Linked DNA regions of Homo sapiens: region 2 is linked to region 1. The links come from fine-mapping of genetic effects on gene expression. A gene starts in region 1. The other region holds a variant in brackets. All regions are shown on one strand. Distances are between the middles of the regions. Region 1 holds the start of RNF13 (ring finger protein 13). Region 2 overlaps RNF13 (ring finger protein 13).

What was found.
Region 2: its variant is fine-mapped to the expression of RNF13 in whole blood (INTERVAL, PIP above 0.99).

The regions. Positions count from the first base shown.
Region 1 is chr3:149,808,312-149,824,932 of GRCh38, forward strand. RNF13 (ring finger protein 13) reads left to right here and starts at 4,904. Exons shown (of 10, transcript NM_183381.3): 1 at 4,904-5,042. RefSeq lists enhancers at 1-185, 4,261-4,772, 4,638-4,747 and a silencer at 4,278-4,427.
Region 2 is chr3:149,852,894-149,866,473 of GRCh38, forward strand. The region is part of intron 3 of RNF13 (ring finger protein 13); the gene reads left to right. Among named protein-coding and RNA genes, the nearest start is that of RNF13, 46 kb to the left of the region's middle. The variant G/C (reference allele first, on the strand shown) is at 4,665.

The DNA.
Region 1 (16,621 bases):
TTCCACATGGCTGGGAGAGACATGAGCTCACTCACTAAGCTCTCACTTTTCCTGTGGGTGAAATCGCTGGCCAAGGGAGGTCTCTCTTGGCACTGAGCTCTGCCACCTAGTGGAGGCAGTGATGCAGGAAAAGCAAAACTATTCTTAGCCACTTCAATTTATCTGTTATGAAAATTTTTATTTTTTATTTTATTTTTGAGACAGAGTCTTGCTGTGTCCCCCAGGCTGGAGTGCAGTGGTACTATCTTGGCCCACTGAAACTTCTGCCTCCTGGGTTCAAGCGATTCTCCTGCCTCAGCCTTCTGAACAGCTGGGATTACAGGTGTGCGTCACTACACCCAGTTAATATTTTTGTGTTTTTAGTAGAGACAGGGTTTCACCATGTTGGCCAGTCTGGTCTCAAATTCCTGGCCTCAAAAAACTTCAACAGTTTGCTGGAACTTCTCCACTGGACTCCTGGACTTCCACAAAAGTACTCTCATCTGGAGGTAGTTTTCAAAATGGATGCTTCTGCAGGGCAATGACAGTAAAGAGCTCCTATTTCACCATCTTGCTGATGTCACTTATTCCATCTCATTTTGAATTTGCCATTTAAAATACCTTTTATTTGCTTCTTCCCATCTCTCCTTTTCTGCTTTATATTGCATATTGTTTTCTTTATTCCTTTATTCCCTTTTTATGTCTACTGGTTTGGAAATCATACTCAATATCTTTGGTCTCCATACTTTTTTTTGCATCTCTTTTTTCTGGGTTTGATTTTCATTTTTCTAAAGATATTCTTTACAAGTTCTGTTAGTAGAAGTCTGTTAGTGGTAAAAGCTGATTTTCCCTAAAAATGTCTTTATTTTGCCCTCACTCTTAAATGACAGCTTAACTAGGCATATAATTCTAAACTGACAGTTGTAACTATTTTATTTTAGCATTTGAAGATATTATTTAACTCACTTTTAGTTTCTTTTGTAGCTACTAAGAAGTCTGGGCCGGGTGCGGTGGCTCAGGCCTGTAATCCAAGCACTTTGGGAGGCTGAGGCAGGAGGATCACGAGGTCAGGAGATCGAGACCATCCTGGCTAACACGGTGAAACCCCGTCTCTACTAAAAATACAAAAAATTAGCCGGGCATGGTGGCGGGTGCCTGTAGTCCCAGCTACTCGGGAGGCTGAGGCAGGAGAATGGCATGAAGCCGGGAGGCGGAGCTTGCAGTGAGCCGAGATCGCACCACCGCACTCCAGCCTGGGCGACAGAGCAAGACTCCATCTCGGGAAAAAAAAAAAACAACTCAGCTATCAGCTGTCACTCCTTTGTAAGTATTTTATCTTTTTTTGTTTGTTTAAAACGTTTTATTTTTCTTTGATCCTCTTTAAATTTTATTACAATGTGCCTAAATATGAATTTATTTTGTGTTTCTTTAGGGTATATTCCTTGGATTGAATTGCTATGTCATAGAAAATTTTCTTTTTCACCCTCCCTAGACAATTTCAAATTGTTTGCTAATGTGATTATGTCAGTTCACACCCCAATGACTTCTTCCATCTTTATATTGCATTATGTCATATGACTTTTTGCATGCTTATTTTGTAATTCCTTTGTTAGCAAACAGAGGAAAACTGGTTCTCAGTGTGCAAAGGAAAAGTTGAATTTGCATGTTGGTCATCTCAGATATACAGAGAAGTAACTCATCCCACATAAAACAATGACTAGATCATTTTTAAGGCATTGAACATTAAGCACACCTCTTTTTGCCTGATCTTTCTCAACTCCTTGAAAATAAATTGGATAAACTTTGTTGAAAAACCCTCTGACTGATATGTATCGCCTTAGGTTCTGAACTTTTCACTTTTTATCTTACTTAATGAACCCATTCATTAATTTGGAACTTGGCAAAGAAATTAGAATCTTTTAGAATCTTTGGCTAAAAGTTCCCTGATGCTATTTGTAGAAATTCTGTTTGGTACTTTTCAAAATTGCTTATTTCATACACATATAAATTCTTTATGGATCTTATTCTTTCTTTTAATAGTAATAATTTTATTTTGTTTTCAAAATGAAAATACCTTTTTTCTGATTCTAAAATTACTTTTTTTCTGTTTCTAAATATGATAATATATAGAATTGTTTAAGGTTTCTGATTAATCTCTGTGCTTAAGGAGACAGCCTGCATTCTTTCTGGTATTTAGGGAGAACTATTTCTAAGCCATTTCAGACAATTACATAATTGGGTATCTGTCTTTTTTTGTTGTTGTTGCCTTACAATATTTTGGAAGCAGGAGATTCTACAATTACTTTTACGTGCTATCTGTTTGTACTTTTTAGGAAGGTTTAAAAAAAAAACCTGTTAGATACAACACCCTAAAAGCACATTTTGATTTTTAAAAAGATAATTAGTGGTATATTAGTATCACGTGCCTTATTAACCCTTCATGTTCTTGAAAATTGTAATTATGATATCTGTCAATCTTACTGTCTAATCTGCTTTAGAAAGATTAATACATTTTTCCAATATATTTTTTTCCAATTTACCTTTTTCAGCACAGGTTGGGAGAGTAAATGTTTTTGCAGAGTGTAGCCTAAATGCAGTACAAATGACACATTACCTTGTTCATAGTTGAGAGAACTATACCTATTGTTATCTGAAGAGCAGGTTGAAACCAGAAGTAAAATATTCTGTACTCAAGGTGCCTTTAAGGAATAAGCAAAGCTCTTTGTCTGAGCGTGGTGACTCATGCCTGTAATCCTAGCACTTTGGGAGACCGAGGCAAGAAGATCCTTTGAGGCCAGGAGTTTGAGACCTGCCTGGGCAACATAGCCAGACTGTAAGGCTAAAAAAAATAAAAAAATTAGCCAGGCCTGGTGGCACATGCCTGTAATCCTAGCTACTCCAGAGGTTGAGGTGGGAGGATTACTTGAGCCCAGGAGTTCTGGACTGCAGTGAGACATGATCTCACCACTGCACTCCAGCCTGGGCAACAGAGTGAGACCTTGTCTCTAAAATAAATAAAAATAAAACAACAAAACCCAAAGCTCCTCTCTGTGGACTTAATTTTTTTTTTTTTTTTTGGAGATGGAATCTTGCTCTGTTGCCTATGCCCGAGTGCAGTGGTGGGATCTCAGCTCACTGTAACCTCTGCCTCCCATGTTCAAGCGATTCTCCTGCCTCAGCTTCCCAAGTAGCTGGGATTACAGGTGTGCACCACAATGCCCGGCTAATTTTGTATTTTTAGTAGAGACGAGGTTTCACCATGTTGGCCAGTGTGGTCTTGAACTCCTGACCTCAAGTGATCCGCCTGACTTGGCCTCCCAAAGTGCTGGGATTACAGGCATGAGCCACCGCACCCGGCCTAAAAAAATTTATTTTGATGTTATGCAAGAAATCTGATTTAATATACCAATTTGGGATAATTTAATGAAAAAAATGCTTATAGAGATATTATAAATGTGTTTATACTAATTAGTCTTCTTAGTAATATTCCCAATGCTGACTTTTATTTATGACTTTCTTAAAGGCAGAATTGTGATTTAAGTATTGAATGTCTTTGCAACCAATGAAAAGTTAAGACTACATAGAATACTCATAGGATACACAGAAGAGGAAAGTACCTTTGATAGCTTTTATTTAATTTTTTAAAATTTGATCTTAAATTTCTTGTATTTGAATTTTATTTGAGTAGGTAATATTTGCAAGGTTCAAAATTCAAAAGGCACAAAAGGATACACAATAAGGAAAGAGTCTTTTCCCCATTGCTGTGTCCCACCTACTCAGGGCTCTCCAAGCAATCAAAGTGACAAGTTACATCCAATGGTATTCTACTAATACTCTGTGTGATAGCCTCCTCGCCACCATTTTTAAAAGATGATGTTGAAGGAGTTGAAGCCTGTAAAGGCCTTATTAAGGGTGCCTTATTATTTGAAGCAGAAGTAGTGCCTGATTCTATGTCTCCTGACATTTCTTTCAGGACTCTGTAATATTTGCCTAAGTCACACTGCTTTTGTAAGGTGGCGAGTTGGCAATGATTAATCAATGTGGATGGTACAATCCGGTAATTTAAGTTTCGACTGGTTTAAGATTGAGACAACCAGAAAGGAAGGCTTATCAGAAGGGCGGCAGGGGAGGAGATTTTTGGTTCATCAAAAGGAGGCAAGGGTTTTAAAAGGCTGACCTAGGGCCTGAATCACATGGTTTGACTTTTGCTAAGCCCCGGGGATGGCGCGTGTCAGGCCCAGAGTGCTGATGCCAGCGTGGATCCGAGCCAGGCCTCAGGGGACTGGCGTTCAGACCTCGGGCCGCTCGCATCTCTAACAATTTGAGCCCTACTTTAAGGTGTGGCCACGGTCCCCACCCACTCTGATCTCAGACTGGGCACGGTACGGAAGGCGGGCGGATGAGGCCTCGCCCTCGCCTCTTTAGTAGGTCGGGTGAGTGTAGTGTGCAGGGAAGAGACGCGTCAGCGCCAGGGCCAGGCCCGCCCGGGGGCAGCCCGGCAGCCGAATCTTGGGCTACTCTGTCCCAACAGCCGGAGCAGATCAGACCGACCGGCCCTGCCCGCTCGGTCCCGCGCCCTCCAGACCCTACGGTCTCCGTTTCTAGGGGCACATGGTTAGCGGCAGGCGCCCACAGCCAATCCACTTTGCCAGCCTGCCCCTTCCTCTGCCAAGAGCAGCTTCTTCAGCCGCGCTCCAGTTCCGCAGACGCCTGCCCCACCCTGCTCTTCCCTTCCAGGGAAGACGGATCACGCGGCCAAGAACGAGACTCGCAAACTGGGCATTTCTCCGAGCCGGGCTAGAGCAAGTAGCGAGACTCCGCGTGAGAGTGGGAAAGAGCCTTAACAGGCAACCATGTTGCCCAGTGGGTTTTCTGTGCCTTTGGGTGCGGACCAATGAGGCGCGTGGGGCGGGACTTCCGCTTCGCCTAGGTGTTGTCGTCCCTGCTAGTACTCCGGGCTGTGGGGGTCGGTGCGGATATTCAGTCATGAAATCAGGGTAGGGACTTCTCCCGCAGCGACGCGGCTGGCAAGACTGTTTGTGTTGCGGGGGCCGGACTTCAAGGTAAGACCCTGTCCGGCTTCGCGGCAGCCGGGCAGCTCGTTATCGAGCGGCCCAGAGAACATACCCCGCTTGTTGGCCCTCGAGCTCGGAGTCGGCCCTGCTGCTGAGGTCTTTGCTGCTCCTCTAGAGCTGGGTGAGAAGTCAATTAGGCTTTTTGCAAAAGGAATAAAATAGCCTTGCCCTCGGGGGACCGAGTCTCCCCTGCACTCTCATTCCGCGAGTTTGTGTGTGTCCAAAGTTGAGTTACCGGTTTTGCTTCTCTCATTCCCTTCTTGAGGCTGCAAGAGCCTGCCTGGAAAACATGTTTGGAAGGCTTTTCTTGGTCAAGTACCTGCCGCAACGTCCTCGGGCACATCGCTTGACTTTAGTTGAGGGGGCTGTTTTGTCTCTGAATAGAAGGAGGGCAGTCACTTCCTCTCTTTTACCCCCACCCCCTTTTTCTTTCCCTGGAAGCTCAGATTGCAGGTTTGGGACTTAACCCCTGCTAGGGCCAGATACTACGGTCAGTCAGCAGCTCTGCCTGTATGCTTGACTTGACTTGACTTGCACTTATTAAATAACTTTGTCCCAGAGAGAAAGAGAGAGTGGGCAGACATCGAAGCCAAACAGCAGTATCCCGGAAGCACTCATGCAACTTTGGTGGCGGCCACTCAGTTTTCTCTGCCAGTGTCTGGTAAATTCCTCTATTTTGTCCTAATCTGACAATAGTAAATAGTAAATTTCCAAAACTGTCGTTTCATCATCAGTTTCAGCACCGTGGGCAGCTGCTCGGGTCCTCTCTTGTTGCCCCAAACCTGCCCGGCTATTACTGTTCGTCAGTGATGCAGCAGAAACAGTGAAAACTGATGCATTCCTTTCAACAATGATGTGTTTGTTCTCCAAGGAGAACATCTGCAGTTTTTGATACAATATAAATAAGTAAGGTGGCTGTGCCTCCAAAGAGTTCTTCTGGAGAAACAGATCAATTCAAGATTTAAGGTAGGGCTTTCAAGAGTTTATGCTATTTAAGCACAGTTTTTTAATGGGTGGACATTAGCTCCATCTCGAAGTAACAAAACTGGACAGTGATAGCAATTAAAAAGAACTTTAAACAGGAGGTAAGAAGTGTAGTGCAGTGCTGTAGTGCAGGAAGTGTAGTGCAGTGCTGTAGTGCAGGGCCCATAAGGATTCATTAATAGATTTTAGAATCAATTTAGTACATTGACATAAGCTTTATAAAGAAAGAAAAAATACCAGAGGACATTGTATGGAATAAAAGTAAATATTATGGCAAGAAGCTTTTGTTTCAGTTTTTAACAGTATGTGTGTGTCAAGAGGAAGATGGAAATGTAAAGTGTATTATGGATTATGGCAAAAACAAATGTTTCAAAATACTAAATTCCAAATTTGGGAGTCAAGCTGGGTTCAGCTCTGCCATTTACTAATTCTGTGACATTTTCCGTAAATAAGAAATGAGTTGTTATGAGGATTAAATGAAACAAAATTTGTCTATTACATAATTTTTTTTTGTTTTGTTGGAAACTGTTGGAGAGAGGCACAGTTATTTTTCTCTATGTAGGGAATGAGAACTGTTTTATTAGTTTTTTTTTTTTTAACCTCTGCCTTTGTTTGAAGCTAGGCAGCTTGACATCTTGTCTCTATGTGTAATGCAAATCATAGACAGAATCTTGGTTTGAGAGGTATAATACTGAAGGGTTTGGGATAAGTTCTCATCTATGCTTGTATAAAGCTAATTTTCTCAATAATTTTGGAGGGGCATAAATTGTTGCTAGCATTCAGCTTTCTTCCCTTGATATTTTTCTGCATTCCAGAATAACGTAGATTTATCAGAACTTTTACAGGCACTAACTTTAGCTAAGTGAGGGTAGGCCTGAGGGTATGACTAAAGGGATAGATTTATGTCTTTGAGTTAAGTTGGCTAGGAAGGCATTTTATGCCTTATAGTTCTTGCCATAAGAGATGTATGAAATGAAATAGTTTGGTCAACTATCATGGTATGTTTTGCTTACTTCATGTAGGTGTGACCTAGAAATGGTTGGCATTTAAATAACAATATTTTTAAATCTGGGAATTGATGTTTAGCAGGAGGCAAATGAGTTTCAGTCAAAACAGTGTTTTGCACCATTTGTCATGTTTACCATATGGCATTGCATATGATAGTTTCACATGACATAAAAAGGGGAAGAAAGTTGGTAAGCATTGTTACTTTTCCCAAAAGAGGAAACAAAATTAGAAGCGAATTCCTTTTAATAAAGCATACTGGTGAGTCATTGTTCAAAAATGTATGTATTCTATAGATATTTATTGAGCATATATAAAAGTAAAATATTAAACTTTTATGAATCTTTTACATTACACAAAAGTTGATTTGGGAACAACACAGCATATGATTGGTATTGTCAAAGTTTATATAGCATAGTATATCAACAACAACAAAACAGTAATGTAGCTAATATTGATTGGTTAATATGAGCCAAATACAATTCTAAGTGCTTTATAATATCTCAGGTGGTTCTTACAGTCATTGATGTGGTAGATAGTAAGTTGTTTCCTTTTTATTTTTTTTTGGGACAGGGTCTTGCTCTGTTGCCCAGGCTGGAGCAATTATGGCTCACTGCACCCTCGACCTCCCGTGCTCAAGGGATCCTCCTATCTTAGCCCGACAAGTAGCTGGGACTACAGTCATAAACCCCCATGCCTGGCTAATTAAATTTTTTTTTTTTTTTTGTAGAGACAAGGTCTCATTATGTTGCTCAGTCTGGTATGAAACTTTAGGGTTCAAGTCATCCACCTGCTTCAGCCTTCCAAAATGCTGGGATTACAGGTGTGATACATCATGCCTGTCTTATCCCCATTTTCTAAGTGGGAAGTGGGGGAATTAAGGCATCACAGATACATAACTTCTGAGTTCACACAAGTAGCTGGTGGAGTAGCTGGAATTTGATCACAGGTATTCTGACTACAGAACGTCTGTCTCTTTTGTGTCTTATTTCATTAAAAAATATGGAATGCTGTGGGGCTATTGTGGATTCGTACTTGCTGGTGACCTTGGGGAAGCTCCTCCTCAATTTCCTTAACTCCTTCCTTACTTGTTTTTGTGGGGATTCAGATAATTTGTGAAGCAATCAGATGGCGTATATGTTTAGTAAATTATATGCCTTAGCCTTTTTTTTTTTTTCATTGAGGATGAGGTCATTTGAAAGATTGTTAGCAGTTGAAGGAGGGTGGAAAAAAAAAAGTTCCACATAAGGACACTGCCCAAGCAAAGGTATAGAGATAGGAAAAGCAGAATACATTTGGTAAGGATATATGTTTAAGGACCAGACTGGTAAAGATAGATGGATACAGATTATGGAGATTCTTAAATGTCAGACTAAAGATTTTATATATGATTTTTAGTTAAGAAGAAACTCTCTTTATGGATAATAATTTGTGAACAGGTCCAATGGAAGAGTGGAAGCCTAGAAGTAGGAATACCATGCAATTTAATTATAGTAGTTGAGGCAAGAAGTGATGATCGTAGTGAAGGTATAGATTTGAAAGATGTTGACATTATAATGACATTGACACTGGGAACTGACCAGAGTATAGGCCTAGGACAAATTTTTGGGAGGATAGTGATGTTATTAACAGAAATAAGGATATTATCATGAAGAACAGGTTTTGGTGGAAGGAGATTTAGGAGGAGAGAGGATGATAGGGAGTTTACTTTTGGAGCTGAGGAGTTGTTCAGACGTTTGGAAATGTAGAATGAAAACTGGAAGTTCTGTGTATTCTATGAAAAGGGAAGAGAACAAATGCTTACATTGTAAGGAAATGACCTAAAAGTAACCACTCCTCTGTGGGTCAGAGTTTCACAAGAGGGATGTGACTCCTTAAATTACTCACAAGTACAGATTTCTCAATGAAGATGCACCCATTATTTTTCCCTTTAGTGTATTTTGATTCGTGTCCTGGGAGATCAGGAGGTAAGGTAGTGGGGAGGAAAAACTTTTAGACCTAGCAAGGCTCCCATTTATTCAAAAAATAGCTAGTAAATTGGAGGCTAGGGATTCTCACCGTAAGAATTTTGAGAGTCTGATTTTTGTGTGGTACCAGGCATTTATAAACATATGTTGAATGCTGAATTGTTGAACATTTGAACATCTCCAGATTTGTTATTTTTATTATCCTGTCTTTGTTACCTTGAATTGGTTAATAGCAAAACCTTTAGAATCAGAGACTCTGTGTGCTTGTTATGGGGGGCAACAATGAAAGTCAGGGTGCAGCTAATGAGATTGTATTTTACTTATAGCCAGGATTGTGGAAGAAGACACTCAAAGGATAAGAGGCTTACCATTTTTCCCATTCTGTAAAACCATGTTGATGACAATACCAATTCTGAGAGTTGTTTTGAAATACTGAGTTAATATATGAAAAGGGTCTGGTACATGATAGATAGTAATTGAGATGTTTTTGTTACCAGTATTATTATCTTCACAAGTGGGGGGCAAACACAGAGATCCCAGAACCTATTATAAGAAAAAAAGGAAAACATCTGGAGACCCTTTGTACTTGAAAAAGGGCTCAGGACTAAGTCATAGAAGGACTGTAGGTTTCCTTTCTTGGAAGGTTTTCTAGGGTTTGGTACAATTGGGTAGAGCATGATGTTGAATTAAGTAGTAAAATATATCCATCTCAACTATTTTCAGTTTCCTGTCAAGTTCTCAGTAAACCAACAGAAAAATGTTGTTGAGCATGAGAAGAAGGTTTACTTTTCTTGTCATACCATTTTTGGAAACATTACTTGGATCCTACTACTTAGGGGTTTTTCTGTAGCATTTATTCACTCAAATATTTGTTGAGTACCTTCTTTGTCAGGCACTGTTCTAAAGAGAAAAATCCTTGCCTGCATGGAGCTTATCTGCTAATGGGAGAAATAAGGTGCATTTTCATAATAGACGGTAATTAGATTTTTCTCGTACTATGTATTTGTACCTATTTAAGCAGATGGTAATAATGAATACTATACCAGATTGTAACTAATTTTGCAGAGCATTTGAAGGAAGGGACCATGTCTTTCTTATTCGCATTTGTCTCTCCCTTTTCCCCTTCCTCCCAGTGGAATGGCTTAGATGTGTTTAATGCTCAACAAACGTAGGTACTCATCAAATGTTTATTACAGGGAGAAGGTGTTAAGGCAGAGGCTACATCTTAAAGATTAAAGGAGTCAGTTAAATGTGGCATGTATTAAGGACCCATATACCCCCTAGATTGAGGGTGAGAAGAAGAGAATCCGGCTGGGCACTGTGGCTCATGTCTGTAATCCCAGCACTTTGGGAGGCTGAGGTGGGCAGATCACTTGAGACCAGAGTTCGAGGCCAGCCTGGGCAACATGGTAAAACCCCATTTGTACTAAAATACAGAAATTAGCCAGATGTGGTGGCGTGCTCATGTAATCCCAGTTACTTGAGAGGCTGAGGCAGGAGAATTGCTTGTACCTGGGAGGCGGAGGTTGCAGTGAGCCAAGACCGCGGCACTGTACTCCAGCCTGGGTGACAGAGCGTGACTCTGTCTCAAAAAAATAAAATAAGATAAAAATAAAAAGAGAATCCCCTGGCTTATCTATGAGGTTGGAATAGGAATAAAGTTATATTGTAGCTGAAAGCATCAACATTATGGGAGTCTGGGTGTCACCCAACATTCCCACTAATTAGCTGGGTGATTTTGCATAAATATCTTAACCTCTCAGTTCATTTCCTCACCTGTAAATGAAGTAGTTGGAATTGTCCAGTTAAAATCTGTTTTTACGACTTCTTGTAAAATATCTCTTGCACTAATGTTTCACTTCACTAACGTAGATAATATAGAGCCAAGCATGAGCTTCCATTGAATAAGCATCAAGCTAAATATATACTCTTAGTTAATAAACTAATGTTTAAGAAAAGATGTCTACAAAATTTGTTGATGCTATTTACCGGTAAGATTACATTGTAATTTTTTAAAATAGAGCAAAATATTACCTAATATATAGTTTCCCCCATTGCCATTATGTAAAGGAAAAATAAGCCATAGTATTTTAGACCTTAATAATGGATCATAATACTCACTTTCATACTTTAATTTATACAACAGTCACTTGCCTCTGATATTGTGCTAGATGCTAGGTATTGTATACAGAATTAGAAAATGTATAGCTCCTAACTTTAAGGAGCTTAAGGAATAATGGGAGTGACAGACCATTTAGTTGTGTTGCATTTTGGTGGCATAGAGAAGCATATAATGAGAGTCTGGGAGAAGAGAAAGTGCTCATGGTTACAGAGAAAAAGACTGGAGGAATGGCAAGGGACTAAGCTAAATATACAGAGACGAGCCAGTTTATGAAGAACTTTGTGCTAAACCACAGTTTAGTTCTGAGCTGTATTCTGAAAACTGCTTAATCTGTTAAGGAATTTTATGCAGGCAGTAACATAATCAGGCATTTTTATATCTACCTTTATATTCCTTTTAAGAGAAGGTGTTCCCTGAGGAAGGTATTTGTTATTTCTAGTTGTTTCAACGATGTAGATCTTCCTGAGGAAATCAGTCTTTTTAACTTTGAAATAAAGTCTGAGGAACATTGTCAATTTTGTGGTTATAGAGTTAATAATTATTAAATATTAATAATTATGAAATATTCAGACATTAAAACATTTAAATGTTTATTGCCACATTAATGTAAACTGAAAAGAAAACTGAAATTTTGGGATGTTTTGCGCTTTGATGTAAGAGAGCTCTTGGTCAGCTACAAGAATTTGGCTTAGAATCATTTTTAAGGAGTTAGAAATACGTTGACCTTGAATTGATTGAAAGTGAATGTAGTTCAGGCTCAGTTTCTTTCTTTCTTTTTTTTTTGTTTTTTTAAAGAGACCGTCTTTTTCTGTCACCTGGTATGGTCTCAAACTCCTGGCCCCAAGCAATCCTCCCTCCTCAGCTTCCCAAAGTGCTGGGATTACAGGCGTGAGTCACCACTCCCTGCCCGGGCTCTGTTTCTAATGATAGAAATATCCAGGTAAACTTTATAGAGGGAATGAATTTCCACCGGGAAATAATCCTAGTGAGGAGCTGGTGATAAATGAATATTTCTGAATGAAGTCATGAGGGAGAAACATCTACTTTATTTAGATGTGAAACACCTCATTAAATGTTGAAGAATACTTTATTTGCATACTTACTATGTTTGTCATTTACTCTTTTGACCCTCAAAGAGGAAGAGCTGCTTATAATTTCCACATTTATCCAACATGGATTATAAATGTTAATTGCTTTTTTTGGAAAAAAAATTGAGGTAAAAATTCACGTAATTAACCATTTTAAAGCAATAGTTCAGTGGCATTTAGTACCTTTGCAGTGTTGTGCAACCATCACTTCTGTCTAGTTTCAAAACATTTTTATCACTTTGAAGTAAAATCTCATACCTATTAAGCAGTCATTCCCTGATGCCCCTAGCTCATGGCAACCACATCTGTTTTCTGTTTTTATGGATTTACTTATTCTGGATATTTTATATAAATTGAATTTTCAATATTTGAGTTTTTATCCCTGGCTTCTTTCACTTAGCAAAATGTTTTCAAGGTTTACCCACATGTAGCATATATCAGTACTTCTTTCCTTTTCATAGCAGAAGAATATTCCTTTCCATGTCAGAAGAATATTCCTTTCCATGTCTATATATCAGTTTGTTTATCCATTTATCCATCGATGGATATTTGGGTTGTTTCCACCTTTTAGTTATTATGAATATGTTGCTGTGAATATTTGTGTCCAAGGATTTATTTGAGAACCTGTTTTCACTTTTTCGGGTATATACCAAGAATGGAATGCTGGGTCTTATGGTAATTTTGTTTAGCTTTTTGAGGACCTGCCAAACTGCTTTCCACAGTAGCTAAACCATTTTACATTCCCACTGGCAATGTGTGAGGGTTCCAATTTCCCTACATCCTTGCCTACACTTATTTTCTGTTTTTAAGAAATTATAATTGCCATCCTTATGGGTATGAAGTGGTATCTCACTGTGGTTTTGATTTGCGTTTCCCAGATTACTAATGATTTTAAGCATCTTTTCATGTGCTTGTTGGCCATGTGTGTATCTGCTTTAGAGAAATGTCTATTCAAGTTCTTTGCCCTTTTAAAAAACTACATTGTTGGTGTTTTTGTATTGAGTTGTGTTTTTATATACTCCAGATACTAGACTGTTCATTATCAAATATATAATGTGCAAATGTTTTCTTCCATTATGTGGATTTTTTTTTTCAATTTTTTGATAATGTCCTTTGATAGATAAATGTTTTGAATTTTGATGAAGTCCATTTTATTTATTTGACCCATGCTTTTGGTGTCATATCAAGAATCCATTTCCAAATCCCAGGCCATGAAGATTAACCCTATGTTTTCTTCCAAGAGTTTTATAATTTTACTCCTTATATTTAGGTCACTGATTCATTTTGTGTTAATTGTTGTATATGGTATAAATTCCAACTTCATTGTCTTGCATGTGAATAGTTGTCCCGGCACCACTTGTTGAAGACACTGTTCTTTTGCCATTGAATGGTCTTTGGCATCTTTAAAATCAATTGGCTATAGATGTATCAGTTTATTTTTGGATGCTCAATTCTACTCCTTTGGTCTATATATCTATCACTATGCCAGTGCCATGTTGTTTTGATTACTGTAGCTTTGTGGTAAGGTTTTGAAATTGGGAAATGTGAGTTCTCCAGCTTTGTTCTTCTTTTTAAAAATTGTTTGGCCTGTTTAGGGCCCCTTGCAATTCCATATGAATTTGAGAATCAGCTTTTCCATTTCTGCATAAAAGGCCATAGAAATTTTGATAGGTAATATATTGAATCTGTAGATTGCTTTGGGTAGTATTGCCATCTTAATAATGTTAAGTCTTTGAGTACCTGGATGTGTGTTTGATATCCTTCAGCATTGTTTTTGTGTTTTATAGTTTTCGGTGTACAAGTCTCTCACCTCCTTTGTTATATTTATTCCTGGGTATTGTATTCATTTGGATACTATTATACATGGAAGTTTTTCTTAATTTAATTTTTGGATAGTTCATTGCTGGTATGTAGAAACACAATGGATTTTGTGTGTAACATTTATTGCCTTTAACAGTCATTTACTTTCTTTTTTCCATGTGCAAGCTGAATCACGTGGGTAAATAAGAAAGTGGAAAGTGGAACACTAAAGAACTTGATCTGTAAGATGTCTGATTTCCCTGAATGTGAAAACTATGAAATATGTTTTTAGCATAGTGTTGAACTATTATCTTACTATACTTGGGCTATTCCATTTCTGGTATCACGTTACATATATTTGGTCATTATTAAAGAAGGTAGATCATTTCATTTTCTTTAGGTTTGGAGAGAAGTGTCAATACGTAATTCATTTTCAAAGTTACAATTATTTTGCAACTTAATTTTGATGTTACACAGAAAGCCTCAGGGATAAACCATATTTATCGCAGAGTCTGGTACAGAGATCCATGAATAATAAAGATAAAATTAGAACAGAAGCTAATTTGAATATGTAAATTACCATTAATATACATTAGTTTTTCTGTTTTTTCTTGAAGTTTCCAAATAGCCTTAAAATTTCATTATGAATAGAAATGTGAACAATTTCAACCTCATAAGTAATTAAAGAAATGCAAATTTATGCAATACTTGGATGATTTGGGAAGGGCAGTATTTCATGACACAGACTTTTAATTGAATCCTAGCTTCACTATTTAAGAGGTAAGTATTACTGGGCAAGTAACTGAACACTTAAAACACTTAAAAATAAGAGGAAATATTTATAAAGTGCTTGCTGTGTGTTAGGCACTGTTTTAAGCACTTTATGCTGTTGATCTAAGTTTTTATTCCTATATTTATGGAAAGACAGTGGAACCTACTATAGAGTTGTGAGGATTAAAATAAATAATGTATATTAAGGACTTAGCCAGATATGTAGTAAGCATTTGATAAATATTAGCTATTTTTGTCATTTATAATTTCACCTAACACCAACAAAAGACCAAAAAAGGAGAATCGATACAATGAAATGCACATTTATTTGGAAATATAAATAGGAATGTTCTTTTCTGGAAAGCAATTGGGCAATATGTATGAAGTCTTAAAATGTTTCTTTGGTGTAGTGATTCCATGTCAAGGAATCTATCCCAAGAAGATAATCAGAAGTATGGAAAGATTTATATTCATTGGAAAATTATTTGTAATAGTAAGAGTTCAATTCAATGTTGTACAGCAAGAAAATAGACAAAGTCATGTGTCAGCCATATAAAGCAGTACAAAGTAGCTGTTAACATAGTGGTTATGAAGAGTTTGAACAACAAGGGAAAATCTTTGTTATAATTTCAAGTAAAAAAGCATACAAATCATAATACAATATGATACAAGTGATTACTTTGAACTTTGGAAGACATTATATTATTAAAATAAAATAACATGTTAAAATTTTGAAGTAGCTACGGAGTTAAAGTTGTAAAAACAATACAAAGACCTTTATGTTTTTTGTTATTTGAGAGAAAGTTGTTTCTCTGATGCTGTATATTCCTATAAACAACAATATTCTCTTTAAAGAAATGGCTGATTTCAGGGCTGGGGCAGGAAAAGTACAAGGCAGGACTGGAAAATCTTGTGCCAGAAAACAAGGAGGTGCTCAAGAATGTTGGGAACATATCAAAAAGACACAAAAGCTAGCTTGAATAAGCCTCCATTGGCCAAACAATTGGACATCAAAATGATAATACAATAGCAGATTATAACCCATTGAATAAAACAGTAATCTGTGATTCCACACTGATATAAATAAGTAAATGAATAAATTAGAATGTTGCCAAGAAATGTGATAATTACCGTGGTAGGCAGAATAATGACTGCCCAAAGATGTCCATATCATAATACTTGGAATCTGTGAATATGTTACCTTGTATGAGAAAAGGAACTTTGCAGATGTGATTAAGGACCTCGGGTTGGGAAGATTATCTGTGTGGGCCCAGTGTAATCACAAGTGTCCTTAAAAATGGAAGAGGGAGGCAGAAGAGGAGTTTGGAATAATGTGCTATAAGAAGGAATTAATCTGCCATTGCTGGCTTTGAAGATGGAAGAAGAGGCTACAAGCCAAGGATGTTGGCAGCCTCTAGAAGCTGATAAGTATAACAATCAAATTGTTGTATAATGTAAAACATTTTCATTTAAAAACATACATGAATAATATCCTAGACTAGAAAAAATATATGGTTTTTTTTTGTGAAAGGAAATGACCTCTGTCCTAGTTTTCCTTTGGGGCTTTTTTTTTTTAAAGATATACACACAAATATAGTTAGGTAGATTGATAAACACATACAGGATTATATGATTATGTCTAGTTAATGTCCATTTGTAAGTATGTCTGTATCAAAAAGCTCCAAAAGAACTAGGTCAGAGGTCATCCTCTTTTTTTTTTTTTTAATTTAACTTATTTTAAGTTCAGGAGTACATGTGCAGGTTTGTTATATAGGTAAACTTGTGTCATGGGAGTTTGCTGACTAGATTATTTCATCACCCACGTATTAA
Region 2 (13,580 bases), 43 kb after region 1:
ATATATGTACACACACATTTACATATATATGTAAATGCTTTCATATACAGTAAATCTGTATTTAACACTAATAGAAACATGCTATTTGGTTACCTGCCTTTTTCTTTTAATTGTATGTTTTGATCATGTTTTTTCATGCTGATAGGTAAGGATTTACATTATTAATTGTAACAGCTGCATGGTTTTGCAATATCATGAAATAGTATGGATTTTGAACATTGCTTTAGTTTTTCATAGTGGATATTTAGGTTGTCTAGTTTTTACTATTACAGTGCTACAATGAATGTTTTTGTCTTTGTGTATTCATCCATTTATCTCCATAGGATACATTTCCAAATGTAGAATTGCTTTGTGGCATGAATGTTTAAAGTTTTGTTCTGTATTTTCAGTTCTTCCTCCAAAAAGTTTGGAACGATTTAGAATTCTATCAATAACATCTGAGACTGTCCTTTTCCCTATACCCTCTTAAATACTAGATATTATCAAACTTTTGCTAATTTGATTTTAAAAAATCTAATGAACTTAAACATATTTTTTGCTGTGTGTGTGAGAGAGAGAGAGGGAGAGAGAGAGAGAGAGAGAGAGAGAGAGAGAGAGAGAGAGAGAGAATGGACTATTAATGCTCTTTGCCCAATTTGAAATGAAAGTGTCCTTGTGCTTTGTAAGAGTTCTTTATATATTGGAAGTATCAATTTATTGTTTGCCATATATGCTTCAGATTATCCCTTCTTCAGTTTTTCGTTTATCTTTTAATTTTTTTTAAGATTTCAAAAGTTTTGTTTAAGTAGTTAAAAATTCTTCTTTTTCCTCTACCTCTGGGGGTTAGAAAGTCCTTTCTCATTCCAAGATAATATTAGTTTTTTGTTATATGAATTCATGAAGTTGTGTGGATATGTACCATAGAATGTTTTCAGTTTATTCTAATTTTCTTAAAATTTCTCTTTTTTTTTTTTTTTTTTTTAAGGTAGGGTTTCACTCTGTTGCCCAGACTGGAGCACAGTGGCACAATCTTGGCTCACTGCAACGTCCGCCTTCTGGGCTCAAGTGATCCTCCCACCTCAACCTCCCGAGTGGCTGAGACTAAGTGGGCACCACCATGCCCGGCTAGTTTTTGTATTTTTATGTAGAGATGGGGTTTCGCCATGTTGCCCAGGCTGGTCTTGAACTCCTGGGCTCAAGTGATCCGCCCACCTTAGCCTCCCAAAGTACTGGTATTTCAGGCATGAGCCACCGTGCCTAGCCAGAATTTCTTAGTAAGATACCACAAACCTATTATTCTTAATTAGGATGGCAGACACCTCTGGGAGGGGCATTGAATTTTTAATTATTAAAAAAAAATTCATAGCATTGTATGACTATTTCTCATAAAAATATTTCAACCGAAAAGTAATATACATAAGAAAAAGGAAACACCTTCTTTTATTCTTTTCTTACCTATATGTAGCAGTCACACTTCCCTCTTCAGAGTTAAATATTATCAGTGATTTTACAGGCCTTCAGATCCTTTTCTGAACATGTAATGCTTTTTCATTCTTTTTTGTTCATAAACTTATGAACATGTATAATTCATAAATGGTTATCATTTGTATATATGAAAAGTTTCTTAATTCTTACAATGGAATCCGCTCTAGCTAGTTTTACCCAGAAAGGGATTTATAAAGGGATAAAGATGTTCAGAGTATCATAGCCTGGACAGGCAGTTTCTAAACTGTTACAGGAATAAAACCCAGAACCACCTTGCAGGACTGGCTTTATAGATGAGTGGTGCAGCCAATGGACCCTCACACCACATTATTTTTTCTCTCATCAGGAAGCCTTTGTGGTTTTACCTCACAACATTTGGCCTCTTCTGCCATCCAAGCTAATCGAAGAGATACCCTTTTTCAGACTGTTTCCTTACATGTCTACTTCCAAATCCAACACTTGGATTTTTCTGAGTGATAGACTTTTGGCCACATAGTTACTTGCTACATATTTTGGTGAAATACCTAGCTATGAGGAAGGCTGGGAAATACAATGTAGGGTTTTTGTTGTTGTTATTTTTGTTGTTTTAGCCTACTTTGGGAAGGTGGAATGCGTAGTGGGTTCAGAAAATTTGGAGCACCGTGAGTGACAGATGTCTACTGCAATAATTACCCTGCAAGGCTGGGCTGGGTGCAGTGGCTCACATCTGCAGTCCCAGCACTTTGGGAGGCCAAGGTGGGTAGATCACTTCAGGTCAAGAGACCAGCCTGAGCAACATGGTGAAACCCTGTCTCTACCAAAAAATATAAAAAGTAGCTGGGCATGGTGGCGCAAGCCTGTGGTCTCAGCTACTTGGGAAGCTGAGGTGGGAGAATCGCTTGAACCCAGGAAGGTGAGGTTGCAGTGAGCCGCGATCAAGCCATTGCACTCCAGCCTGGGCGACAGAGTGAGACCTTGTCTCAAAAATAAAAATAAATAAATAACTACTCTGCAGTTTGATTCCCCTACTTCTTCTGTTTTAGAACTCTTTCCACAGCAGCATCTATAAATCTAGTATGTTCCTGTTAAGCACTGCATGGTATTCTGTAATATGAATGATCATAGTTTATTAGTAATTTCCTCTTTAAAAATACATATATATGTATTTTTACATTTATGCATTAAAAAATATATATGTATCTTTACATTTATATATTAAAAATACATATATACGTATATATGTGTATATATATACGTGTATATATGTGTGCATATATATGTGTGTGTATATATATATGTATTTTTTTTCCCCCAAAGTTGTTATTTCTCTAGGATAGAGGTCTGGAAGTAGAATTGATGAAACCAATGGGTATGTACATCTAAAAGTTTCATAGATACTGCCAAATTACCTTTGCAAAGGCTGTGCTAATTTATTCCCATTAACACTGTAGGAGAATACTTATCTCCCTATACTCTTGCCAACACTGGATATTATCGGTCTTTCTAACTCTTGCCAATCTGATGGGCAAAAGTATTATCTTGTTTTAATTTGCATTTCTCTGATTACTAATGATGATCTGGCAACCTTTCTTTCATTCTATCATAAGGAGTCAGACTATTCCTTCTCACTGAAGAGCTTTTCTACTGAATAAGCTTATTTTAAAGAGCTCCATTAATTCTCGATAAGCATAATCTTATTGGTGCTCCTCAATTACTGTGCTACTATAAATTTGGTTTACATTTAAAAGATATGTTGATGAGTTTGTTTATTCACTGCCTGACCAAAAAAAAAAAAACGGTGTTAGATATCTGTCTGCTTTTTGCACTTGACAATATAGGGCAAGAAGAGAAGTGAAATATTCTAACAAAATTATTGGATTATTATGGGTAGCTTTTATAGTTGCGTGACTGGTTTTGCCATTGCCCAGAATCAGAATTTAAAATGCCAGCCATGCAAAGATTTACATTTGTTTACAAGGACTTGATAATAATGAAGTGAGGTAGCTCACTATAGTATTATGTCTGTAAAACCAATTAAATAAATACGTTAAAAATATAACTAATTTAAAGATATAATATGGTTATTATGAGACTTAGCTGAAAAATACTTTTTTTTTTTTTTTTTGAGACAGAGTCTCGCCCTATTGCCCAGCCTGGAGTGCAGTGGCATGATCATAGCTCACTGAAACCACCAACTGCTGGGTTCAAGCCATCCTCCCACCTCAGGCTCCTGTGTAGCTAGTACTATGGGAGTGTGCTACTGTGCCCGGCTAATTTTTAAATTTTTTTAGGAATGGAATCTTGCTATGTTTCCCAGGCTGGTTGCGAACCCCTGGCTTCAAGCAATCCTCCTGCTTCGGCCTCCTAAAGTGATGGGATTGTAGGCATGAGCTACTGCACCTGGCCAAAATATCTTACTTTTTTTATTGAGACGGAGTCTCACTCTGTCGCCCAGGCTGGAGTGCAGTGGTGTGATCCCGGCTCACTGCAAGCTCCGGCCTTCTGGGTTCACGCCATTCTCCTGCCTCAGCCTCCTGAGTAGCTGGGACTACAGGCGCCCGCCACTACGCACGGCTAATTTTTTTGTATTTTTAGTAGAGATGGGGTTTCACCGTGTTAGCTAGAATGGTCTCAATCTTCTGACTTCATGATCCACCCACCTTGGCCTCCCAAAGTGCTGGGATACAGGCGTGAGCCACCATGCCCGGCCCAAAATATCTTACTTTTAAACTCTGCCCAGAAAGTTTAGGTGAGATAGTTTTTGTAGGTCTAATTTATGTTCTATATTTTGTAGCTTTTATAACATCCCTGGATTCCATCAGAATCATTTATAAGACTTCAGATATTTATAGTATAATATATCAGTTGAAATTCTGTTTACATTCTATTTATATATGCCCCAATATTAGGTTAATTGTATTTAAAGCCTTTTTCTGTCCTCTCCTGTATCTTAAAAAATACTATTATTCAAGTATAAGAAAATGAGAAAGCCAAGGAATTTTGACCTATTTGAACTTTAATGCAAAAATGTAAATCTTTTCATGGATTAAAATATGGCACATCAGTGTTACAGAAGTTTTAAAAGAAAGATTTTATTTTTGTATCTAGGTAAGTCCTGTGTTTGTAGTTTTATATTTTAATTGGCTGTTTAGGAAGTTACCTTTTCCAGACAACCTTTTTAGACCTTGTAACCTTTGAGTACCATTAGTAATTAGTTTACA[G/C]TTCTTTTGAACAGTATATTTATATGTTTTGGCAAAATTCAGAACTATACAACTGTTCTTTTTGGAAAACATGTTTTGTCTTTGAAAAGATAAATAATGTTACTTAGCAGTATAAATATACTTTCCTACGTCCTCAAAAAATTGGTAAAGATTACCTTTCCCCATCCCCTTCCCCCACTCTATGCTTAGGAGGCCAAGAATTATTATTGTATAATGTAACGTATGACTCTATTTTTACCTTTTTCAAATGGATAACCAAGTATTAAAGAATCATTATTGAGTAGTTACTATGGTTTGGATATGGTTTTTTTGTCCCCACCAAATCACATGTTGAAATTTGATCCCCATTGTGGGGGTGTTGGAAGGTGGGGCCCAGTGGGAGGTGTTTGGGTCATGGGGGCAGATCCCTCATGAATTGCTTGATGCCATTCTCTCTCTGGCTAGATGGAATTAGTTCCAACGGAATAGGTTAGTTCCCTCAAGAGTGGGTTGTTATAAAGCCAGGACACCGCTTAGGTTTGGTCCCTCTTCACATATGCCCACTTCTCCTTTGGCCTTCTCCATCATGTTTTGATGCAGCCCTCACCAGAAGCTGAGCAGGTGCCAGTGCCATGCTTCTTAAACAGCCTGCACAACCATGAGCTAAATAAAACTCCTTCCTTTATAAATAACCTGCCTCAGGTGTGCTGTTATAGAAACACAAAATAGACCAAGACAGTAGTCAAGACTTTACATGTGGATTTGTAATGGTAGCAAGCAAGGTCTCTTGCTATACTTTTTATTATCAGTATAATTGGAATAATTTAGTTACACATTGAGGGCCAGTCTCAGGAGAACAAGCTTCTCCAGATTTCTTGTTTCTATATTTTTAGGAAGTGCCTTGATAGGTGGAGGAGATAATGATTGTTAAAAAATTGAAAACAAGATTTATCTCTGATAAGGAAGCTTTGATCAGTAAGCCAAGTGTCAGATTACCTGAGTATAATTATCAATGGCAAATCTCATTTTCAGCAACACAGCTTTTGGGCTAGATTTGCCATGATCCATATATACTGTGTTTTGTAACCTGGTAGTCAGGGTATATTCTTTATGTTGAAGAGGAAGAAGATAGAAGAGATGAAGATCATGGGATGCGGATTTGTCCTAGACTATGCTGTTCCTACTATCCAGAACAAAGTTGCAAATAAGCAGTTTTTCTTATATGATGTATAATTTATTTCCCCTCATCATTATTCATTAAATTAGTGCCTTATATCATCACCAGTTAATTTTCCACAAACTAGGCTTGTTCTTTGAAAGTTAATTTACCAGTTAATTTCAAAATTCTTATTACAGGAAATGATTTTGTTTAATATAAAGTCTTGAGATTAGAAGAGAGTTTTTTTCCCTGGTGAAGGAAAATGCAAACATTGCAAAGAAATGTGGTTGTTTGGATGTTTTATTTGTGTTACGTCCTTTGCCTGCTTTCTTTGCAGGAAAGAAGCTCAGTGCCACTTAGTGTATTTTTCCTCTCAGAACACTTACACAGTTTTGTGATGTGAAGAAAGCCCTGGTTAAGGCTCAATGTGCTGGACTTCCTCACCCTTATGTTACAGTATCACCCTCAGTTTATAAACGAAAACAAAGGTCAGAGTTCCTTTTTCAAAGGATAAATAAAGAAATAGCATTGTCAAAATAAAGAGTCAAACCATCTGGTTATACATGAAATAAGAATTCTAAGATCTAAGGACATTTTCACATGCACATAGTTAGATGGTATAAAAAGAATACTTTTGAAGTGAATTTTGAGCTTCTAAAATAAACCCTTTCCTCTTAATTTCAAAAAGTAATGGTTGCTTATTCATTTATTAAATGAAGCAGGAATATAGCATTTCATTTGATTTAGAAAATAATTGTTTCATCATGGCAAATTATCACTTAGAGAAGAGGGGAGATAAAGACACACACACACAGAGGAAGTCAAAGGAGGCTCAGGTTTTTGATTTCATAAATCAACACACTCCCTTCATTTTCTCATTGCATTACTGGGCATCTTTTTTGTTCACTTAGTAGTTTTTACTAGATTTTCTTAGTGGCTTTCTCAGTTCAATATAGCTAATTTTTTATTCTTCTGCTCATGAAAAAATATTTTTCTCATTAGAAGAGTGATACATGCTCACCATTAAAATTAAGATGATATAGATATGAAAAAGAATATGGCTCATGGAGTAGAACTGGTATAATTAAAATGACCATACTGCCTAAAGCAGTCTACAGATTCAATGAAATTTCTTTCAAAATGTCAATGTCATTTTTCACAGAAATAGAAAAAACTATCTTAAAATTTATATGGAACCAGAAAAGACCTCAAATAACCAAAGAAATCCTGAACAAAAAGAACAAAGCTGGAGACATCACACTACCTGACATCAAAATATATTACAAGGCAACCAGGTGTGGTGGCTCACACCTGTAATCCCAGCACTTGGGGAGCCCGAGGCAGGTGGAGCATTTGAGGTCAGGAGTTCAAGACCAGCCTGACCAACATGGTGAAACCCCATCTCTACTAAAAATACAAAATTAGCCGGGCATGGTGGTGGGCACCTGTAGTCCCAGCTACTCAGGAGGCTGAGGAGAATCATTGAACGGAGATGCAGGTTGCAGTGAGCTGAGATCATGCCACTGCACCCCAGCCTGGGCAACAGAGAGAGACTCCATCTAAAAAAAAAAAAAAATATATATATATATATATATATATATATATAACGTGTATATATAATGTATTTATACATAATGTATACACACATATATACATATTATGCACACACATACATATAACAAGGCTGTAAGAACCAAAACAGTATGGTACTGATATAAAAACAGGCACATAGACCAATGCTACAGAGTAGAGGATCCAGAAGTAAATTCACATATTTATGGCCAAATGATTATTGACAAAGGTGCCAAGAACATACACTGGGGAAAGGGCAGTCTCTTCAATAAAGAATGCTGGGAAAATTGGATATCCATATGCAGAAGAATGAAACTGAACCCTCATCTCTGACCATATACAAAAATCAACTCAAGATGGATTAAAGAATTAAAGCCCCCAAACTATAAAACTATTGGAAGAAAACATATGGAAAACACTTCAGGGCATTGAACTAGGCAAAGATTTTACAGCTAAAATCACAAAAGCACAGACAACAAAAAGAAAAATAGACAAATGATGCTATATTGAACTAAAAAGCTTTTGCACAGCAAAGGAGTCAACAGAGTGAAGAGACAACCTGTTGAATGGGAGAAGATATTTGCAAACTCTCCATGTGACAGGGGACTAATATCCAGAATATATAAGGAATTTGAACATCTCAGCAGCAAAAAGACAGTCTGATTTAAAAAAGGGCAAATGATCTAAACAGATATTTTTCAAAAGAAGACATACAAATGGCCAACGGGCATATGAAAAAAATGTTTAACATCACTAATCATCAGGGAAATGTAAATCAAAACCACAGCGAGATAGCATCTTAATCCAGTTAGGCTGACTATCATTAAAATGACAAAAAAAAAGACAGATTTTGGCAAGGATTCAGAGAAGAGGGAACTCATACACTGTTGGTGGGAATGTAAATTAGTACAACTACTGTGGAAAACGGTATGGAGATTTAAAAAAAAAAACTTAAAAGGGGGTGGGGGAGAACTAAATATAGCACTACCATAGGACCCAGCAGTCCCACCACTGGGTATTTATCCAAAGGAAAAGAAGTGTATCAAAGGGATACCTGCACTTGCATGTTTATTATGTCACTATTCACAATAGCCAAGATGTGGAATCAACCTACTGTCCATGAATAGATGAATGGATTAAAAAAAGTATATATATGGAATGTAATACTATTTGGCTGTAAAAAAGAATGAAACCATGTCATTTGTCACAACATGAATGGAATTAGAGATTATTATGTCAAGTGGAATTATACAGGCAGAGAAAGAACAAATATCCCATGTTCTCACTCATTTGTAGGAGCTAAAAAAGTTGATCTTATGGAGGTTGAGAGTAGATTGATAGATACCAGAGGGTGAGAAAAAGATGTGGTTGAGAGGGGGAGATGAAGAAAGGTTGGTCAGTGGGTACAAACATGCAGTTAGATAGAAGGTATAAGTTCTAATGTTTGATAACAGAGTAGGGTGACTATAGTTAGCAATAATGTATTAAGTATATTTTGAAGTTGCTGGAAGACAGAACTTGAAATGTTCTCAACACATAGAAATGATAAATACTCAAGGTAATAGGTTCCTCAAGTATCCTGACTTGATCATTACACATTTTATGCATGTAACAAATTATCACACGCACCCCATAAATATACAAAATATTAAATGCCAATAAAGTTTTAAAAGAATATGAAAATCATACATAATTCTACAATTAAAGATTATAATGGTAGATGTTTGGGTACAACTGTGTGAACTTATGTAGACACATTCATGCCTTCATTTTATGCACTTATATGTGTTATTTTGCAACTTAAAAAAATTGGCAATATGTTGGATGGCATATCCAATATCATGGATATCTTCCCATATAAAAATCTATACATTCATATCATCATTCAAAATTATACAATTTATTATAGTACTTAAATTACACCATAATGTAACCAATCCCTTGTGTCATTGGACATTTAGATTGCTTTCACTTTTTAAAAATGGAAATATTTCAAGCATAGACTAGAGTATGAGAATAACAGAGCATCCTGTATATCTGCTACCTAGAGGTTAATATTTTACTATTTTTTTGAAAGAAGAAATAAAATATTACAGATACTACTGAAACATCCTTTTTATCCTACCATATTCTGTTCCCTTACCTCGCTCCTTATAGATGATCATTATCCTGAAACTTATGTGTATCTTTCCTATTTATGTTATAAAACATACATATATATATTTTTTCTACCATATATGCATCTATAAACATTGTGCTTCCATTTAAATTTTCTTTGCTGTGGTTTTAAAACTTGCTTTTCCATCTAACACTATATTTGAAATTTTTGTTATTACATATTCCTAATTCATTTTAACTGTTGCATACTGCATTTTATGAATATGCCACAATTTATTTTTTCATTCATTTGCTGGTAGATGCCAGTTTTTTACTTTCTTTTTTAGTGAACATCTTTTAAATATGTCTCCTTGTATATATTATAACTAGATGCCAATTCACACTCATCAAATTAGTAAAAGTAGGAGTCTAACAATATCCACAACTGGCAAGGATGTGAAACCAGGTACTTTTATATACTGCTGGTATAAAAGAATGTCCAGCCACTTTGATGAGTTTAGTAATATCTCCCTTCTTCTGTAAGTGATAAGTAATAAAATAATTCATTATATTTTACATTTGATATATTCCCTGTTTCATGAAATAAATGAATGAGTAATCGTCACCTTTGAAATTAACAGAATAACTAATGGCAATGACAGTACCCTTATTAAGGTATTGTAATTGTTCTCCCTACTTTTGTTTGCCTGCACTATCCCTTCTTGCCAGTTGCCATTCTCTTTGAATTCTGAATACTGAAATAATTCCTCTAGTTAGGATCTGACCATTTCCATCATTATGATCCCTTTAATCAGATTGATAAGCAAATTGTATCAACTTTAATTAACCAGGTTGTGTTCAACTATAAACTGAGTTATAATGACAAATTGCAAATGGCAAGTGCTGTGGTAAGTAATGAATGAGTGAGGGTCTTTTTTGTTGTGGTTGTGTTTGTTATGTTTTGGAAAACAGTATGTTTTATGTTTCATTACCAAAGAATTCCTCTTAGTCTTGATTCTTTTTTTTATTTTTTAAGATGGAGACTCGCTCTGTCATGCAGGCTGGAGTGCAATGGTGCAATCTCAGCTCACTGCAAGCTATGCCTCCTGGGTTCAAGCAATTGTCATGCCTCAGCTTCCTGTGTAGCTGGGATTACAGGCGTGTACCACCACGCCTGGCTAATTTTTGTATTTTTAGTAGAGACAGGGTTTCACCATATTGGCTAGGCTGGTCTTGAACTCCTGACCTCAGGTGATCTGCCTGCCTTGGCCTCCCAAAGTACTGGGATTACAGGTGTGAGCCACCACACCCGGGCTACATTTGTTCATAATACTAAAGGAGAATTTTTCTGATGCCTGTTAAGTTTTCATGGATTTACTTTTTGTATTTGTTTCTGAACTCTTGCTGTCAAAGATTTTGTTAAGAATTCTGTAGTTATTACATTTAACCTCTTTATGTTTTTACAGGATTTGTCAAATACTATAGAATATGAATTATGCATAAATATTCTTTACTGGGTTGTACTGATTATATGGCAATTGTAGAGGACATGGATTGCTAGTGTAAGCACAATCCACTTAGAATTCTTGTTTTTAGAGAAATTATTTTGTTGCATGTAGCTGGAATGGCAATGTTTGATTGGAATTTTTTTTTTTTTTTTTTTTTTTTTTTTTTTTAGAATGATGATGTGGTTGTAGTATTAGTATGAATGTAACTACCATAGTTTGGATATTTGATCCTTATGTTGAAATCTGATCCCTAGTGTTGGAGGTAAGGCACAATGGGAGGATGTTTGGGTCAGGGAAGTGGATCCCTCATGAATGGCTTGGTGACTTCTGCTGTAATGAATGAATTCTCACTCTTAGTTCCTGTACGAGCTAGTTGTTCAAGAGTCTGGCCCCTCTCTTCTCCTCTTTCATCATGTGATCTCTTCTCACACAGGCTCCCCTTCACCTTCCACTATGCATGAGTGGAAGCAGGCCATCAGAAACAGATGCTGGTGCCATGCCTTTTGTGTGTGTGTGTATGTGTGCTTTCTTGTATAGCCTGCAGAACTATGAGCCAAATAAACCTCTTTACAAATTACCCAGCCTCAGGTATTCCTTTATAGCAGTATAAACGCACCAAGACAGTAACGTATCAATTAAAAGGCATTGTCCTCCAGAGCGCACATTCATTTTGTTTTCTAAAATGTCAAGGTATCATATCCATTGAGTGAACACACATTATCTGTGTGTACCAAATGAGAGGCACACACCAGATGACCTTTTCTTCACAGAGCTGGAATATCATAAAATCAAAATCCTGACAAATCAGTACTGTGTTAAGTAAAACAAAACTGAAGGTTATAGTCATTAAATGTTTGCCAATTATGCTATTGTTATTGAGAACTAAATTTGATAAAGACAAAAAGAATGTCAACTGGATCTTTTATGATTTCCCTTTGCTTAAATCTCTCCATATCAGCTCAAATAAAAAAGAAATTATTGATCATATTTCCTAGCTTTATTCTGGACACTATGATTTGTTGCCATCCCTCCCTCCTTTTTTCTTTTAATGTCGAGGTCACTAGCAAACTATTTATGTCTGCAGATTAATTTGAAGTAGTAAACTTTGGGAGAAGATATTTATTAATTTATATGTAAATGAAATTTTATTTGCAATCAGGTTATTCTGATGATATAAAGAAAGGTATAGTGGATGTTTAATAAGATATATTGTATTTAGATGGGACAACCAAAATTCCAAAACCAAGAGAAGAAAAATTAGGCATTTGGAGTATATTTCTCCTTAACCAGTGTGATCTAAGAAATAAAAAAAAATAAAAACAAGCATCTCCATAAAAGTGTCTTTTCTGGCTGTCTGCAGAAGTGGTACTTATCAATGGTTACAGTAGACTGGAGCCTGTGCAAAGGGGCTAACCCTTTCAACACATTCATGAAACTTCTTTCTAGATGTTTTGGTGATATATATATATATATATATATGTATAAAACAGACATTATATTTGTTGTAATAATCATCACCATTAATAGTAAAAGCAGGAATATTTAAGATATAACCTCAAAAGCTGTCTTGTTCATTGACCAGCCCTATACCCTCCTGTTTCGTTTTTTTGAGAGAGAGAGTCTCACTCTGTTTCCCAAGATGAAGTGCAGTGGTGTGATCATGGCTCACTGCAGCCTTCCACTCCTGGCCTCAAGCAATCCTCCTACTTTAGCCTCCCAAGTAGTTGGGACTACAGGCATGCACCACCACAGCCAGCTAATTTTTGTATTTTTTGTATTTTTGTAATTTTGTATTTTTCTGTAAACAAAAAAATTGGAATAGATGAGCTTTCTCTCTGTCTACTAATTTTGGGTTGCATTTGGTGTTGTTTTTCTAGTTCCTTGAGGTTCATTGTTAGGTGGTTTATTTGAAATCTTTATGCTTTTTTGATATAAGCGTTTGTTACAGGAAAGGGGTCCCGATCTAGACCCCAAGAGAGAGTTCTTGGATCTCGTGCAAGAAAGAATTCAGGGTGAGTCTATAGAGTAAAGTGAAAGCAAGTTTATTAGGAAAATAAGGGAATAAAAAAATGGCTACCCCGTAGACAGAGCAGCCCAGAGGGCTCCTGGTTGGCCATTTTTATGATTATTTCTTGATGATATGCTAAACAAGGGGTGGGATTATTTCTGCCTTCCCTTTTTAGACCATATAGGGTAATTTCCTGATGTCATGACATCTATAAACTGTCATGGCACTGGTAGTGTTATAGGAAAGGGATCCTGATCCAGACCCCAAGAGAGGGTCGTTGGATCTCACACAAGAAAGAATTCAGGACAAGTCTGCAGTGCAAAGTGAAAGCAAGTTTATTAAGAAAGTAAAGGAATAAAAGAATGACTACTCCATAGACAGAACAGCCTGGAGGGCTGCTGGTTGCCCATTTTTATGATTATTTCTTGATGATATGCTAAACAAGGGGTAGATTATTTATGCCTCCCCTTTTTAGACCATATGGGTAACTTCCTGAAGTTGCCGTGGCATTTGTAAAGTGTCATGGCGCTGGTGGGAGTGTAGCAGTGAGGAAGACCAGAGGTCACTCACGTCACCATCTTGGTTTTGGTGGA